Homo sapiens: one gene and its partner. The protein of the gene in region 1 interacts with the protein of each later gene in a biochemical or structural test. Each region holds a gene or a part of one and is shown in the gene's direction. Other genes may lie near its edges.

Region 1 (3,599 bases):
CTGTAGAGTGGGGCATGTGGGTGTCAGGAGGGTGGTGGGACCCAGCTTGGGGTGTTCAAAGTGGGTGGCGACAGGGGTGGCAGGCCGCATTCTAGGCCCTGGGAAGGACAACAAGAAGCAAAAGAGAAAACGTCTCACGCCTGTAATCCCAGCACTTCAGGAGGCCGAGGCAGGTGGATCACCTGAGGTCAAGAGTTTGAGACCAGCCTGGCCAACATGGTGAAACCCCGTCTCTACTTAAAATACAAAAGTTAGCTGGATGTGGTGGCGGGCACCTATAATCCCAGCTGCTCAGGAAGCTGAGGCAGGAGAATCGCTTGAACCCAGGAGGCGGAGATGGCAGTGAGCTGAAATCGCACCATTGCATTCCAGCCTAGGTGACGAGAGGAAGATTCTGTCTAAAAAAGAAAAAAAGAAAGAAAAGAAAAAAAGAAAATGTGCTACCCTTAGGGAGTGGTGGTCTCAGGGTGGGGTTGATGGTTGAGTGCCCCTGGCTACGTTATTGTTATTGCTGCCGCCATTGTGCCCTTAGAAGGGGCAGTGCTGTGGATATAGCAGGGATGGGACATGGGTCTTCCTGGGGCACAAGGAGGCCTCTGGTGCCAAGGTGGCGAGGCAGTGGCAGGATGTCTTGCGGGAGGGTGTCCAGGGTGGGTTTGAGGGACAGCCTGGGGCCAGGGGCTGTGGCCGGAAGGGGAGTCCGCTGGAGGAGGCTGGGAGGTGAGGTCCGAGGGGTCAGGAGCTTCCCTGTGCAGGTCCTGCATGTCCTGGGGGGCCTCTGGCATTGAGCAGGGGAGGGATAGGCACCGACTCAGCTTCCACAGGCCCTCTGTGGCTGCCATGGAGACTGGGGGGCCATGGGCAGAGGCAGAGAGGCTGGCAAGTTGTGCCCCGAACTGGCTGGGCAGGCACTGTTAGATTCAGGCCTTGAGGGTGGGAGAAGGGGTCGGATCCTAAATAGACTCTTCAGAGCCCTCAGTGTGGGAGTGAGGTGTGGAGCTGAGGTTTTTGGCTGGAGCTGCTGGGGGCCCGAAGGGGGTGGCCATTCGCACTGGGAAGGCGGAGTGGGGAGCTGGCTTGGGCAAGACCAGAGCACGATCGTGGGTCAATCAGGGTGGAAGCGTCCTCCAGTCACGTCTGGGGGCCCTGGGATGGGGGTAGAGGAGCCCGGAGCCACCAGCCCAGCCAGACATGCTGTCGTCTCTGTTGCAGGAGCCGCCCTGCCTGGAGCTAGCCTGGGGGCGAGCCAGGGTCCCCCAACCCCCGGGATGACCGCGGCCAGCCGGGCCAACCCCTACAGCATCGTGTCATCGGAGGAGGACGGGCTGCACCTGGTCACCATGTCGGGCGCCAACGGCTTCGGCAACGGCAAGGTGCACACGCGGCGCAGGTGCCGCAACCGCTTCGTCAAGAAGAATGGCCAGTGCAACATTGAGTTCGCCAACATGGACGAGAAGTCACAGCGCTACCTGGCTGACATGTTCACCACCTGTGTGGACATCCGCTGGCGGTACATGCTGCTCATCTTCTCGCTGGCCTTCCTTGCCTCCTGGCTGCTGTTCGGCATCATCTTCTGGGTCATCGCGGTGGCACACGGTGACCTGGAGCCGGCTGAGGGCCGGGGCCGCACACCCTGTGTGATGCAGGTGCACGGCTTCATGGCGGCCTTCCTCTTCTCCATCGAGACGCAGACCACCATCGGCTACGGGCTGCGCTGTGTGACGGAGGAGTGCCCGGTGGCCGTCTTCATGGTGGTGGCCCAGTCCATCGTGGGCTGCATCATCGACTCCTTCATGATTGGTGCCATCATGGCCAAGATGGCAAGGCCCAAGAAGCGGGCACAGACGCTGCTGTTCAGCCACAACGCCGTGGTGGCCCTGCGTGACGGCAAGCTCTGCCTCATGTGGCGTGTGGGTAACCTGCGCAAGAGCCACATTGTGGAGGCCCATGTGCGCGCGCAGCTCATCAAGCCGCGGGTCACCGAGGAGGGCGAGTACATCCCGCTGGACCAGATCGACATCGATGTGGGCTTCGACAAGGGCCTGGACCGCATCTTTCTGGTGTCGCCCATCACCATCTTGCATGAGATTGACGAGGCCAGCCCGCTCTTCGGCATCAGCCGGCAGGACCTGGAGACGGACGACTTTGAGATCGTGGTCATCCTGGAAGGCATGGTGGAGGCCACAGCCATGACCACCCAGGCCCGCAGCTCCTACCTGGCCAATGAGATCCTGTGGGGTCACCGCTTTGAGCCCGTGCTCTTCGAGGAGAAGAACCAGTACAAGATTGACTACTCGCACTTCCACAAGACCTATGAGGTGCCCTCTACGCCCCGCTGCAGTGCGAAGGATCTGGTAGAGAACAAGTTCCTGCTGCCCAGCGCCAACTCCTTCTGCTACGAGAACGAGCTGGCCTTCCTGAGCCGTGACGAGGAGGATGAGGCGGACGGAGACCAGGACGGCCGAAGCCGGGACGGCCTCAGCCCCCAGGCCAGGCATGACTTTGACAGACTCCAGGCTGGCGGCGGGGTCCTGGAGCAGCGGCCCTACAGACGGGAGTCAGAGATCTGAGCCAACCTTGGCCGACATGCAGCATCCACCCCCGGCTGGGGAGAGGCCCCGCGGTCGCTCAGGGGCCCCGGGTTTGAGCAGAACGGGCCCAGTGCCCTGGGTTGCAGACTCAGTAGCGTTTTAGTCGTTTTATGTTTCTTTGCAACGGCCTCAGAAGTTTGGCCGGAGAGGGGGCAGCCAGAGCGGCAGCCCCCGGCCTCAGAGGCTATCACAGGCTCAGGGCAAAGAAGTGGCCTCCTGGGGGGCCAGGCCACGAGGGCCAGGGCTTCTGCCTGAAGATGGAGCTGCAGCCTGCGGGGAAGCAGCTCAGCTCGATGGTGGGCCCAGCCTCTGCTGTCCAAGGCTGGCTAGCTGCGGTGCTCCTTGCTGGTTTTTAACTTGGGGAGAAACACCGGGTTTCAGCTTTCTTGACCTTAGCTTGGGTGAGACTGTTTACAAAAAAAAAAAATTACCATGCAATTGAAAAAATTTTTTTTTAATTCACAGGGGGCAAAAAGAACAATTAGAATTCCATGGGTCTGCCAGGATGCAGCAGCTGGCTGAAGGCTCCAGAGGGTTCCCCGAGGTGGGACTGGCCTCTCCCCGTGTGTGTGGGCACCACAGTCCCTGGGCAAGCAGGGTGCTCTGGGACCGCACTTCATCGAGCTCACGAGCCAGCTAGGCTCTGTTTGTGATAGAAAAATCAAGACCATGTTAATGATCGTAATAAAAGCTTTCTACTGTCGTTGGGGTGGTGGGTGGGGCTGGGAAGAAACTGGTTTGAGCTTTTAGAGTTTGCCTTTGTACCTTAGAGATGTGTCTCAGGGCCAGGCATGGGACCTGCCATCGAGGGTTCCTCCCCGCACCCTCGATTTTCCTGTTTTGCTTCTCTCTCCATTTCTGTCCAGGCCTCCGCCCAATTCCACAGTGAGGGGTGGTTAGGAGCTATAGGCCGGGATGGCTCCTTGGGAAGGGAAGTCGGGATCCCAGGCTAGGAGGAAGCTGGCAGCCCCGTCCCCACTGGGCCCACAGTGTGAGTCGTGCCTTAGA
Region 2 (3,500 bases), on another chromosome or scaffold:
CCGGGACCGGCACACGGTGGGCCAGCGGACCCCCTCCAGCAAGCCCAGCATCAGCCTCTCAGCCCCCGACATCCTGCCTCTACACTGCACCATCCGCCGGCAACCGCTCCCGGACAGCGGCCAGGCCGCGGGGAGGCTGGTCCTGGAGCCCATCCCCGGGGCGCACATCTCCGTCAACTTCTCCGAGGTGGGGCACAGGACCGTGGTGCTGCACCACGGGGACCTGCTCTCCCTGGGGCTCTACTACCTGCTGCTATTCAAGGACCCCGCGCAGGCCCAGCCCCTGCCCGCCCGGGCCTTGGCGCGCCTCCGGGCTGTGCCGCAGAGCTGCCGGCTGTGCGGGGCCGCGCTCGGGGCCCGGGGAGCCGCCTCCCCTACTCAGGCCGCCCTGCCCCGGCGCCAGCAGCTGCTCCTGGAGTTTGAGCCCCACCTGGAGGACACGCTGCTGCAGAGGATCATGACGTTGATCGAGCCGGGGGGCGACGACCACAAGCTGACCCCCGCCTTCCTCCTGTGCCTCTGCATCCAGCACTCGGCCACCCACTTCCAGCCGGGCACATTCGGGCAGCTCCTGCTCAAGATAGCCAGGCTGATCCGCGAGACTGTCTGGGTCAGTGTGCTGGGGTGGGCGGTCTGGGTCCTGTGCCGGTCTGGGGGAAGAGGGGGCCCGGAGCTGGCCCCGGCTGGGAGGCGGGAGCGCCTCTATCTGACCCCCACGGTGCTGTGCTGCTGAGCGCAGGGCGGCCTTTCCCTGCCTGTCGCTGCCCCCCAGCCCCACAGGCCACCAGAAGCAGCCCCAGAACCCAAGGTGTCAGCTGCAGCCCTTTGCCCCTGAGGGTGGGGTTTGCGTGGGGTCCTAGGTCACCTCCTGAGCTCTGGGCTTGTACCCTCCCTGGGGTCCAGCTGGGCCCAGCACTGTCACGTGCCAGGAGTGAGCTGCCCCTGAGCCTGGGCACCACGAGGCCGAGGTGACATTGATAGCTCTCACAGGCCCCTGCCCAAGAGCCCCAGAAGCCCCTGTGTGTGCCGGCGCCCTGTGCTTGCTGCCAGGGGCCGGTTGAGCACATACCCGCTGGAGCCATCCCTGATCCGAGTTTGGAGGTGCAGGGCCCGTCACCTTTTGTGCGTTGACGAACTTTCCTCCAGGCCAGCCTCTCTCATCCCCGGCCCTGTGGACACTGTGGCAGGAGAGCTCCTTGCTGTGAGGCTGGCCTGTGCATTGCAGAGGATTCAGCAGCATCCCCGGCCTCCACCCCTAGATGCCGGTCACCCTCTGCCGCCCCGCCACACACACACACGCAATACACCCATGGCTGCAGGCATTGCCAATGTCCCCAGGAATCCAGTGTGGCCGCCAGTGAGCAGGACCGCCCTGGGCCCATGAGTGCTGGAACAGGCATCACACAGTCATGGCCCCCCGCTGGGCCCCACCCCACAGTGACTTGGCTCCCAGGGACCCGAAGGACAACTCGTAGTTGTTCAAGTTCGTTCAGAGACCCTCAGATCCTCGCTAGTCTGGGCCCCGCTTATCCCCGGCAGACAGGGGAAGGGGGAACCACTTGACTGTGTAGAAACCTTATCACTTTCTCATATCGAAATCCACATTTTAAATGTCTGAGACTTTTAAAAAGTAAAAGCCAGCTCAGGCTTCCCTGTCCAGATGTCAGTGGGAGCCGTCTCTGTGCACCGTGGGTGTTGTAATCTGGGTGTCCGTGCCTCTTCCCCTCGGGTTCCCGGCTTGGGATTTGATGGGAGTGCCACTGCAGCGTGCCCGTGTCCCCTCCGTGCAGTCATGGACACAGGGCCAGGTGATGTCCCTGTAGTGTGTGTCCACATCGTGGCCACTGTGACCGAGAGTTACCTGCTGGCCAGAAGTCATGGGTTTTCGCACGATCATTGTCATTTCCCGAGTCTCCTCTGCGCCAGGCACTTACTTGCAAACCAAACGCTGTTTAATTTCTTTATCACAACCACCCTGACGATGTAGATGCCACACCCCATGTCACAGCCAGGGAAACTGAAGCCAGGGGGCCGTAAGTCACTTGCTGAGGGACCCGGGTCCCAGCCTGTGTCCCAGCCACCTGGGGCTCGCTGTGTGGCTGGCCCACTCCCTGCAGCACACCAGGGCTCACCCTGCCCCTATGCTACAGGCTCTGAAACAGAGGCTCCCAGAGGTGAATTGCCTGGTCCAGAGATTGAGCTGATAGACATGAGACCGAGCCTGAGTCCACCTCTTCCCCCTGCACCCACTGTGGGAATCCGAAGCCTCCGCTGGGTGCTGTCCAGATCCCATGCGAATATCATTTGCGCGTTTGTTTCCTGAGAATGTGCAACTGTGTCGCCGCTGCCCCGTCCTCATTCCTTACCAAATATACACGCTTAGTCTACGCGCACTCAGCCATCACGGTTACATTCAGCCGGATAATAACTTACTACTAAGGCAAGAATAATTCTTTTTTTTTTTTTTTTTTTTTTGCTGAGACGGAGTCTCGCTCTGTCACCCAGGCTGTAGTGCGGTGGCGTGATCTCGTCTCACTGCAACCTCTGCCTCCCAGGTTCAAGGGATTCTCCTGCCTCAGCCTCCCAAATAGCTGGGATTATAGGCATGCGCCACCACACCCGGCTAATTTTTGTATTTTTAGTAGAGATGGGGTTTCACCATGTTGTCCAGGCTGGTCTCGAATTCCTGACCTTAAGTGATCTGCCTGCCTCAGCCTCCCAAAGTGCTGGGATTCCAGGTGTGAGCCACCTTGCCCAGCCTCTACTATTTTTTAAATAGCCGGTTGTTATGTAAGCTAGAGAGTTGTGAGATACTCTATTGTAGCAAACTTGTAGGTCATAGTCGGTAATGGAATGGGAAGATGTTGAAGTCACATGGAAAATGTCCTTTCCAGCACAGCTTGAATAAATAGTCAGCGTCACACAGGATGCCTGGGGCAGCATGGCTTGTTTTCCTGTCGATGGTATCGTGTATTTGAACGCGTCCCTGTGTTAGCCTGTTTTGCTCACTTGCTTTTTCTCCCGCTTTGTAATTGTAGGAGAAAACCAAAGAACTAGCAGAGAAGCAGGCGCAACTGTGAGTATGACCCGGTTATTGTGCCCGCCTCTGGGCAGCAGGTCCTGGGGGCTCACACTTCCCGGGGGAGCCAAGTCCCGAGGGGTCTCCCCACGCCTTGGGGTCAGCTCTGGGCTTTGTCCTTCCATCCAAGCAGCGGCCTTTTTTGCTTCTTTAGTCATCACCCTGGGAAGCTCTGAGTTTTGGGAAATTGCTTCAGGGCACCCTTAAGACTGGATGGGTGAGGTCTTCTTTTTTTGTTTGTTTTTGTTTTGTTTTGTTTTGTTTGCTCTATCGCCAGGCTGGAGTGCAGTGGTGCAATCTCTGCTCACAGCAACCTACACCTCCCAGGTTCAAGGGATTCTCTTGCCTCAGCTTCCCGAGTAGCTGGGACTGCAGGTGTGCACCACCATGCCTGGCTAATTTTTTTTTTTTTGTACTTTTA

The links. Proteins that work in one complex are often made in the same cells at the same time.
Region 2: the proteins of KCNJ12 (region 1) and RADIL interact in a test that uses a peptide from one of them, tested with the Homo sapiens proteins (one large-scale study listed by IntAct).

The regions. Positions count from the first base shown.
Region 1 is NC_000017.11:21,414,075-21,417,673, forward strand, and holds part of KCNJ12 (ATP-sensitive inward rectifier potassium channel 12), read left to right. Parts: intron 1-1,212; 5' UTR 1,213-1,268; coding exon 1,269-2,570; 3' UTR 2,571-3,599. UniProt on the Homo sapiens protein: Inward rectifying potassium channel that probably participates in controlling the resting membrane potential in electrically excitable cells. Probably participates in establishing action potential waveform and excitability of neuronal and muscle tissues.
Region 2 is NC_000007.14:4,831,717-4,835,216, reverse strand, and holds part of RADIL (ras-associating and dilute domain-containing protein), read left to right. Parts: coding exon 1-610; intron 611-3,038; coding exon 3,039-3,076; intron 3,077-3,500. UniProt on the Homo sapiens protein: Downstream effector of Rap required for cell adhesion and migration of neural crest precursors during development.